Homo sapiens: one gene and its partners. Changing the gene in region 2 together with the main gene of any one other region gives a genetic interaction. Each region holds a gene or a part of one and is shown on either strand. Other genes may lie near its edges.

Region 1 (2,790 bases), on a different chromosome or scaffold from region 2:
CTTTTTCTCTGAATTTCTTCAGGAGAACACTTTCTATTTTTCTCTTCTTCCTCTAAAAATTCAACAAAAGATGAGTTTTACTTTTATAGCCTATAAAGTCATTCAATATGTGCTTTAATTTTTGCTTTTTTTAATCACCCAGATTTGCCATATTAGTTGGCTATTAAATCAAACTAAACTACTGAATATAAAATTCTAAGTACATAATACAGATATAATGCTCCAGTTCAAAAGAAAATCAAGCACTGATGGATCTGTCTCTATTTGATACATTCTTTTCACAGTGTGATAAAATTCAGTTTGATAGAAAACTGACTACCCACCAAATAATTCTTGTGGACAATGACATCTAATTTATATGACCCACGAATAAATATATCTTTAAAAAGGATACATTGGGATTTAAAATGTTATGTAAACTTTAATTGGAAAATAGTCAAAATATAAGGAATTAAATTAGTTATCAATCTCAAACAGTGTATATTTACATAAGATGTTATATTAATATTCACATCTACTTTTCCCTATAGAGCTATAAAATTTTCATTTCATCCACTGAGGAAATATATTTTAGAGTGATAAAATGAAATCTGTCATGTCAAACTGGTTACCTGTGATTCACTGTCAGAAATTATATTTTTATTTGGAGGATGCATTTTGGAGAAACTTTAAAATAATCTCAATTAACTTAGTAAGTTGAGGCTTTGTATTAGAAATCACTTTCTCATTTAAATGATATTTTAAGTTTAAGACTATCACCCTAATACATATTTAAGTATATCATTTATTCTGACATTTAGAAAAAGATACACAATTTATGAGACATTTCTCTTGTTAACTAACAGAGGCATTTTCAAAATATATAATCTGCCTCCCTTTCCTTTCTTGGTATAATCAGAAATGGGAGGGGGTATTCAGGCTAAGAAATACATATTTTAAATAAGTTTCCCAGATGATTTTGATGGCTTTTATTTCCTAAGCTATTTACCTAACAGACTGTAGATATTTTTTCCTAAAGAGAGACACCAGAAGATACTTTCTAATTAGCTTGACTAATTATCTAATACTTTTAGTCTCAAAGCTGAGAAACACAACAAACTCAGACTACACATCCAAAGACTTTACACTGAATTTGACTGTGTGGAAAGAAAACAGGTTAATAATCTGTAACAGCAGAAAACATAACTTCCTAAAGTTGGTCTTACAATTTGCTTGGCAATATTATAGAAAATAATTTCAAATGATAATCAGGTCACACCATGAAAATTTGATTTAGGGACTCATCCATTTTTCCCATCAGTCTTTCCTTTAACTCAATCTATAATAAAAATACACAATGAAGTCTTAAAATATTGTAAAGTACTAAGCAAAAGCTGCTCTTCTTAATCTTGATCTTACAGTGCAAGGGTCAGTAATTTTTTTTTTTCCTGTAAAGAAAGAGTCAGAAAGCAAGAATGTTAACCTTTGAGTATCTTGTTGCAACTGCTCACCTGTACCACTGTAGCAAAAATAGTTATGGATAATGTATAAATAACTGATGAGCTGTATTCAAATAAAACCTGTTTATGGACAATGAAATCTGGATTTCATATAATTTTCAAATGTCATGAAATATTATTCTCCTTTTAATTTTTTTCCAACCATTTAAAATGTAAAAATCATTTTTAGTGTGCTGGCTATACATAAACAAGCTGCAGGCTGGATTTGGACAGATCATAGTTTGCCAACTCCTGCCTGAAATAAATGTGGGAGTTAAGTGAGTTTTGTTTCAGAGATACTTCCCTGGAGAGCAGCTTGCTACATACCAAAGTAAAAGGAAGTAGAAACAATAGAAAACATCAACAAAGTTAATAGTAATTAAGAGATTCAGTACTATCAATAAGTTTAAAGAAAATATTGATAAGGTAAGCTAAAACGCAGATTATCCATAAAAAATGCAGATAGATTGGTAGATAGGAGTTTTGGGAAAACTCAAATACTCCAGGAGGTTTAGTCTTTTATAGAATTATAACTATAGTTGACCCTTGAACAACATGGGCTTGAACTGGCAAGTCCACTCATTTGTAGGTTGTTTTCTGCATCTGACACCCCTGAGACAGCAAGACCAACTCCTACTCTTCTTCCTTCTCGGCCTACTAGACATGAAGATCATGAGGATGAAGACCTTTATGATGATCCACTTTCACTTAATGAATAGTAAATATTATTTTCTCTTCCTTATTTTCTTAATAACACTTTTCCAGCTTATTGTAAGAATACAGTATATAATACATATAAGAGCATACAAAATATGTATTAATTAATTATGTTATCGGAAAGGTTTCTGGTCAACAGCAGGCTATTAGCAGTTAAGTTTTTAGGGGATCAAAAGTTATACACAGACTTTCGACTGCAAATCAGATCAGCGCCTCTAACCCCCACACTGTTCAAGGGTCAACTCTATCTGTAAATAAAGTCATGCTAGGAACATGCTTGATTTAGTTACAATATGCTCACTTTAATACAAATTTAAATACTTAAAATTATTATAGATTGAGAACAATTTTTAATATTTCAAAATATCTAGTTTGGGCTATCATGTAAAGCAAGCTTGTCCAACCCGCAGCCCGCAAGCTACCCGCAGCCCAGGATGGCTTTGAATGCAGCCCAACACAAATTCATAAACTTTTTTACAACATTATGAGATTCTTTTGTGATTTTTTTTTTTTTTTTTTTTAGTTCATCAGCTGTTGTTAGTGTCAGTGTATCTTATGTGTGATCCAAGATAATTCTTCCAATGTGGCCCAGGGA
Region 2 (3,662 bases):
TGGCAATTTCTGAGAAAAACCCTCAAGTGCTCCACTAAATGTCTCCTTGAACTTGTAAGCAAGAAACCATATTCCCAAGAGTACTAGTTAAATACAATGCCAAAATCTCTTTAGTACTAAGTGAGTCATCAGCTCTAGTTTTTACCTTAACCAGTTCAACATACTGATGTATAAGATGTCAAGCATTAAGGAACATAGATCGCATTCACTTTGAGTGCCTGCTATGTGCCAGTCACCATATATGGTGGTGCTGTTATAAAATGTTAAGATATAAATGCTTGAAATGGTTCTGACCGATTTTTTTTTAAAAAAAGCAATAGTATAAAAAAGACAACACTGTCACATATTTATTGACTACAGCAAATTTAATTTCAAACCCCAAATACAGCAGAATATAAAATTACCTAATATAGGAGACTTGGCTATACAATAACTCACAGAAAAAAGGTAGCTTCAGTTGTGACTGCTAGTTTAATAAGTTAGCAAAGTATGGCTGCCAAAAAAGTAAGTTGCTTTAACGACAAAACAATACCAATTCAATCTGCCCTTACAAAAACAGTTTTCAGTGTTACTGTACACTCCCAGCAGTAGTAGAAAAACTTGGAAACTGATATTTAGGTATGTAGCATGATTTGAAAAGAAATTAGAAAGCATCCAAGAAGGTGAAAAACAGGTGTAAAATTTTAAAAACACTCGAATTATGGCAGCATCTGCCTAAGTTGTTTCTTTTTCTCCCTTAAGTGATTCTACTCAATAAAGTTTGGGAAATGCTACTGCTACAGTCTCTCTCCATGAGATTCAAGTGCAGTATATACACATATGAAACTTTTATACAATGCCTTGCCTTTTGAAAAAGCTTTTTTGTACTTACTGAACTCATAAAATCAAAAAACAATTAATGGTGAAATAGTGTTAATTATTACAACTTCACCTGGGATATTCATGCGGAGACCGGAAAACTTGTTACATATAACGTAACAGATACCTATTAAGAGACCAGAATTGATCTACAGATCTTTCGAAGATTATATAATTTTAGACTGTCATTAGGTAGAAACAACCTATCATGGTTACATAAAACATGACTGAAGATTTGTCTAAAAATTAACCCAGGAAAGCAAAATCAGAATTTTCCTAGAGTGGAAACCTCAGGATTCAAAAGCTCTATTAAGTTTAGGTATATCATACCATTCTTGGTAAAAAGGCCGCAAGTTAGTGTGAGATGTCCAAGTGGTTTGGGATTGAAAAATACAGAAGTCTATTAAAATAAATTTTGCTATTATAAGATGAGATGAAGGTAACTCATTAGGCAAATAATGCCTACTCACCACAATTTGAATTTTAACAACTTCTCACAAAGTATCTTTAATCAACACCACTAAAAGAACAAAAATTATAAAAGTAACTTTATTGCTTCCCCATCTCTTACCAAAAAGCTGCCATAATAAAAATACTCAGATAAGTAGATCTAAGAATGAAGCTTTATTAGACAATGAGAACAGCTTATTTCACTAGAAATATTTACCTTTAGAAATTGTTAAAGCAGGCGACCACTGTGATCTTAGAATATCGAGACAAATGCTGCCATTACTGTTAATATTTGGATGATAAATTCTTGTTGTAAATGCAACCTAAAACAAAAACTTTTAAGTATTTTATTCAAATAAAAACAAACATCTTTTAAAGCAAAACTTAAAATAATCAAGCCACAATGTTAAAAATGTCATCTATTAGCATAGAAGTTCTAAATATTATAGAAACTGATTTTTACAATCTGACCACAACCCCCTGCCTCCTCTTTTTACAACAGAAACCTAAACTTTTGGATAAAAATTTCATTACTCATATGATGTAAAGTTCTAAAGGTTACTGTGGCCCTACCATATCATGAATCAAAGGGCAATTTAAAGGTATTTAACACATTCATTTATAAAAGCCCTAACTTTTGGATGTAACCAAAATTTGTAGACCATCTCATTTAAAGTTTCATTAAGTTACACAGGTACACCTGAGTCTGCATTTCCACCGTACATAAAACATAAACTTGAATCACAAAAATGGAAACCATCACATTGCACCTATAACATTACTAGAGATTGTTATAGTGACATGTTTATGACCTTTGTATATTACCTTTTCTAGTTATTCATACAGGTTGAATTTATGTTAATGACTGAAAAGTGAAGGATAATATGCTTTTAATACCTATAAACCAGTGCACTAAGCAACTCTAAGTTTTCACAAATTTACACTTACGTATACAAAACTATAAGCATAATAAGCATATGCTGTAACAATACGTGCAAATATAAATTGAAGTTGGACATTTGATGCTTACAAGACAACAAAAGCCCAAAAATCAGAATCTGTGTAACAATAATACAGATGAGGGCGGAAGCTTCCACATGGTCTGAATCTTGCAACATTAAAGAAAAGGCAAACCTTATTCCTATTTACAAAGCTCAAACTGAGGTCTAGCTCTTTAAACCAAAGGTTAAGAGTCAGCATCTATACATGAGTGCAATTCAACATATATATACAGCCTACACAGAACCCTATCTTCCAAGAATGCTCTATTCCTTTGAAATAAAGCATAAATCTATACTAACAGATTTTGAGGGAAAATACTTGCCTTAGGTGGTTTGAAGGGGTAGTCTGTAGGAAAATGAATTGTCAAAAAGAATACACCGCCTTGATATGGGCTGTCATTCTGTAAAAAGAAAAGTATGCTTAACTCAAATTTAAAATATTATTGCTAAATATTCCGTAACATTTGTTTCCAAGCATTTCTCTAATAATGAACCCAAATCACCTATTTACACTGCAATAAATAATCTATTCCATGAAAATTCAGTCTATAGTAATAGAAAAAAACTTAAAACTTATACAGTAATAAACCCTAATTTATCTAGTCATTTTACACGTCACCAAAATGTTTTTTTAAAAAGTTATCCAGAAACGCAAGTATTCTAGATCTCAATTCTCAAAAGTACAACACAGCAATAAAGCCTACATAATCATGTTTCAGAATAATCTGTAAACAAAATTTTACACATGTAGATTATTTCTTCCAATAGCCAGATGTGTACAAATGGCTTCACAACAGTCCATTCTGCCCACTGGCAAACCAAATGTTAGCTATTCCAGGTAACACACACACACCACCTTCAAGAGGAGAACAGAGAAAAGCCTAAGCTTCTCATTTTAATCAATACCAGAAAATACATGCATTGCCCCTATTTTATGCATGAGAAAAATGAGGCTTAAAGAACTTAGTCTAGTGTACAAATGGTAAATGATAGAACCAAGATTCAAACACAAGTCTTTTGAAGACCACTTAATGATCAAAGATACTGACCTACTCAGGAATTTAAAGTTAAAATGTGGAATGCCTAACTGCTTCTGGGTATGCAAAGAACCAATCCGAAGACATGTTTTACAACTTACATGAACTGGGTTTTTACCAACACTGACTCCCCTCTATTAGAAAGGCTTTGTATATACAGCTATATATGAGCCTTTCACTATGCCCATTCTGGATGTCAGGCACATAAAAAACAGGCCTGACACTAACACAGCTCATCTAATTCCTACCCTTCTGTAAAATAAATAAACATTAATTCAATTAATCTAACCCCTTGCTATATACTGTATGTGTGTTA
Region 3 (3,662 bases), on a different chromosome or scaffold from region 2:
TTTTTCTTTTTTGAGATGGAGTCTTGTTTTGTCGCCCAGGCTGGAGTATAGTGGAGCAATCTCGGCTCACTGCAACCTATACCTCCCAGGTTCGAGTTATTCTCCTGCCTCAGCCTCCCAAGTAGCTGGGACTACAGGCATGCACCACCACGCCCTGCAAATTTTTGTATTTTTAGTAGAGACAGGGTCTCACCATTTTGGCCAGGCTGGTCTCCAACTCCTGACCTCAGGTGATCCGTCCGCCCCAGCCTCCCAAAGTGCTGGGATTACAGGTATGAGCCACCACGCACAGCCAGAACATCTTTTATATGTGTGCTATTTTTGCCTCAAAATTAAATAATAAACTGCAATTTTATACATAGAAATATCCAGTTAGAAATAATCTAAATGTTTTCATATTATATAAGTTCATTTTAAATAAGTGGAGTACTCTTTTCAATCCATGTTAAGAAGCCATGCCAAAATAAAAAAGCTGCTGTATTATAGCCAGAATGTTCTACAGGTTTATTTTTCAAAAATGTAATAAATGTAAGATTGATTTTTATTTCAGGTAGGAGTTTATCTGGTGCTATTTTTCTTCACCTTTTAAAATCAAATAAAGATACTGTTTTCCATTTCTCAGATACTTGCCAGCTATAGCCTCTGGAATAAATTTAGGTGGCTATGAATAAACTCATTGGAACTTAAAGGAGATGTTTAAAACATATCACTGATACAACTTGACTATCTTGGCTGGAAGTAATCTTACTATTTGCCTTATTTATTAAATTGTTCATTCATTTCATAAAATATTTATGTATCCACTTTGATGTCAGTAGGTATAGGGGGATTGAAGTATCAGATAGGAATGAATAAATATCTTAAAGCCCTCACTCACTGAGTTTAATGAGAATGAAGAGATGCACTGAAATTCTTTAATAAATGTGATGGAATACATAAGTACTATGGGGGTTCAGCAAAAGGAAAGATTCCCGCGGAAGAAAAATGGTGTAAGAAATGGAAAAAAGATCATGGTACAGGAGAAGGCATTTGCCTGGGACCTTTGACAAACAGGTAAAGGTGTCATTCAGCATTATGCTGTCTGTATTGTTAACTGTTCACAAATGTATGTCTTTTTTCCTTAGCTGGTCTGAAAATCCTCTGACGGAACGTGGTAGGCACTTGATATACCTTTCACTGATTTATGTTTGCGACCTGTCCAAGACACTCTCAAATAAATTATTTTTGCATAGGTGCTGCTTTTTAAAAAATCATTTCATTTGAAATTCTTTAGTTTGCAAGATATTGGTATCACAAAGATTTAAACAATTTGCTGCTGAATTTTCAGTTATTTTAAAACCCATTTATTATTACTGTTAAGTAAGTTTGAGACAGTTAAAGTCACGAGCTCTTGAAAAAATCTTATTATTAGTGCATCATGTTTTTCTACTAATCCCTTATAATTAAGTAGTGAGCAAGACAGACACGGTCTCTGCCCTCATGACATTTATATTGAAGAACAAATAATTTCACTGAGCCTATTGTAGAGATAATAAGTTACATATTATACACATTTATTAAATGTAAAATAAAGTTTATATCAAAGTAATCTGAGTTTATATTTTTGCTTTTACGTCAGCATTACTTGTAAATGAATACCCTAATGCTCATCATTATTTTAGAATTTTATTTTCCTTCTCTGTGTGTACCAATCAGAATGTGAGTAGTCAAGGTCTAGGGAAAGGATGACAAATGAGTCCTTAAATTCTTTAGTCTTAAAAAAAAATCTATCACTTTTATATGGGAAAGAGAAAATTCGCATGTATTAAGCTTCCACTAAGTGAGAGCACTGTGCTAGACATTGTGTACAAAATATTGGTAAGAATGGTCTTGTCAAAAAAGGAACAAATCAAAGAGAAATCAGAGGCAATAATGGAGAAAGAAGAACCTTTGGGAACTCTTCTTCTTACTTCCCTTTTTTCTTCTTAAAAGATTCTTCTTGATGAACTATCTTCTACTAAACATTGGGCATCTATGCACGTTTCAGACCACAGTGGATTTCACTACCGCCAGTTTTTGCTTAAGTCTTTGATTAGCCAAACTGTGATAGACAGTTCTGTGATGGAGCAAAATCCTTTGAGAAGTGAGCCAGCCCTAGTTCCTCCAAAAGATGAAGAAGCAGCAGTTTCAACAGAAGAACCAAGGATTAATCTTCCCCATCTTCTAGAAGAAGAAGTTGAATTCAGCACTGATCTTATTGATTCCTACCCAGGACATGAAACCCTTTGGTGTCATAGGTAAGAAAAGGGAAAATCTATTTCCTACACAAAACTGCATGTCTTCATGAGAGCTGCAGAAAGTGTTAGTTACACCTGATTCCTGCCTGCTTGGGTAAACATGGTCATCTGATTGTGGAGCTTTGCCTGAGTGAATACAAGAGGTTTTGTGTTACCATATCATCGTCATCATCATCATCATCATCATTAATAAGAGATTCCTCATGTAGATCTCTGCCTGCAGCTTAGGATGGTGATATTCAACCTTGACTGTGCAACAGAATAACCTGTGTTAGTTCCAAAATAAAACAGAATCAGAAGTTTTTTTGACTCCTTCCTTGGAGATACTAATATTTAGCATATCTAGGATGGATTGCTGCCATCTCTCTTTTTTTTTTTTTTTTTTTGAGATAGAGTTTTGCTCTTCTTGCCCAGGCTGGAGTGCAATAGCGCGATCTCGGCTCACTGCAATCTCGGCCTCCAAGGTTCAAGCAATTCTCCTGCCTCAGCCTTCCAAGTAGGTGGGATTATAGGCACCCACCACCACACCGGGCTAATTTTTGTGTTTTTAGTAGAGACGGAATTTCACCATGTTGGCCAGGCTGGTCTCGAACTCCTGACCTCAGGTGATCTGCCTGCCTTGGCCTCCCAAAGTGCTGGGATTACAGGTGTGAGCCACCATGCCTGGCCCTTTTTTTTTTTTCCCCCCTAGAAAAAGCTCAACACATTGATGCACAGTCAGGATTGAGATTTGATTAGACCCCAAGAATAAGGTATGCTTTATCATTTTTCCAACCCTGATGGTCTGCAAATTAACTTACCTGAAGTATAATCTCTTGACACTTTTTGTTTAAAGTGTAAGAGAATTTCTCTTTGAGAGAGGGGAAAGTCTGGTAGCAAAGAGTGAAAAAGGGTTAGCAACCTATCAACTTCAGTTGTGAGTACATTTGACAGTATGTTGGACTGAAGTCACATATGTGACCCCTTCCCAGCTTCATTTCTTTTGGATCTTCCTTTATTTGGAGGCATCTTCATCTTCATAAATACAGATTCTACTTTAGGCCATAGCATTGTATTTGTAAATGAAAGACTTGCCTGTGCTAGGCAGGAAGGAGGTAGGCATTGTTTAAAATTGCCTATTTCTAAAGTTATTGAGATTTTCTTTCTTTCTCCAGTCTAGTCTGTCTTGCAGGTTATTTGAGGAGACCTGGTCAGCTGCTTTTCCTTACTAAATATATTCAGAACATAAAAGATTATCTCCCCTCTTTGGCACCTTCATTAGTAGAGAACATTCTTTTTCTCTTAAAACCAAGACACTTATTTCATGTTTTCAAGAGGGAAGATAGACCTTTTAAGCTACTGGCATACCTCAGAGATATCACAGGTTCAGTTCCAGACCACTGCAAT

The links.
Region 1: changes in UBE2D3 (region 2) and ETAA1 are lethal when combined (synthetic lethality), as found in Homo sapiens cells (one large-scale study listed by BioGRID).
Region 3: changes in UBE2D3 (region 2) and PTAR1 are lethal when combined (synthetic lethality), as found in Homo sapiens cells (one study listed by BioGRID).

The regions. Positions count from the first base shown.
Region 1 is NC_000002.12:67,407,173-67,409,962, reverse strand, and holds part of ETAA1 (ewing's tumor-associated antigen 1), read right to left. Parts: intron 53-2,790; coding exon 1-52. UniProt on the Homo sapiens protein: Replication stress response protein that accumulates at DNA damage sites and promotes replication fork progression and integrity.
Region 2 is NC_000004.12:102,799,929-102,803,590, forward strand, and holds part of UBE2D3 (ubiquitin-conjugating enzyme E2 D3), read right to left. Parts: intron 2,711-3,662; coding exon 2,633-2,710; intron 1,632-2,632; coding exon 1,526-1,631; intron 1-1,525. UniProt on the Homo sapiens protein: Accepts ubiquitin from the E1 complex and catalyzes its covalent attachment to other proteins. In vitro catalyzes 'Lys-11'-, as well as 'Lys-48'-linked polyubiquitination.
Region 3 is NC_000009.12:69,721,940-69,725,601, reverse strand, and holds part of PTAR1 (protein prenyltransferase alpha subunit repeat-containing protein 1), read left to right. Parts: intron 1-1,971; coding exon 1,972-2,276; intron 2,277-3,662.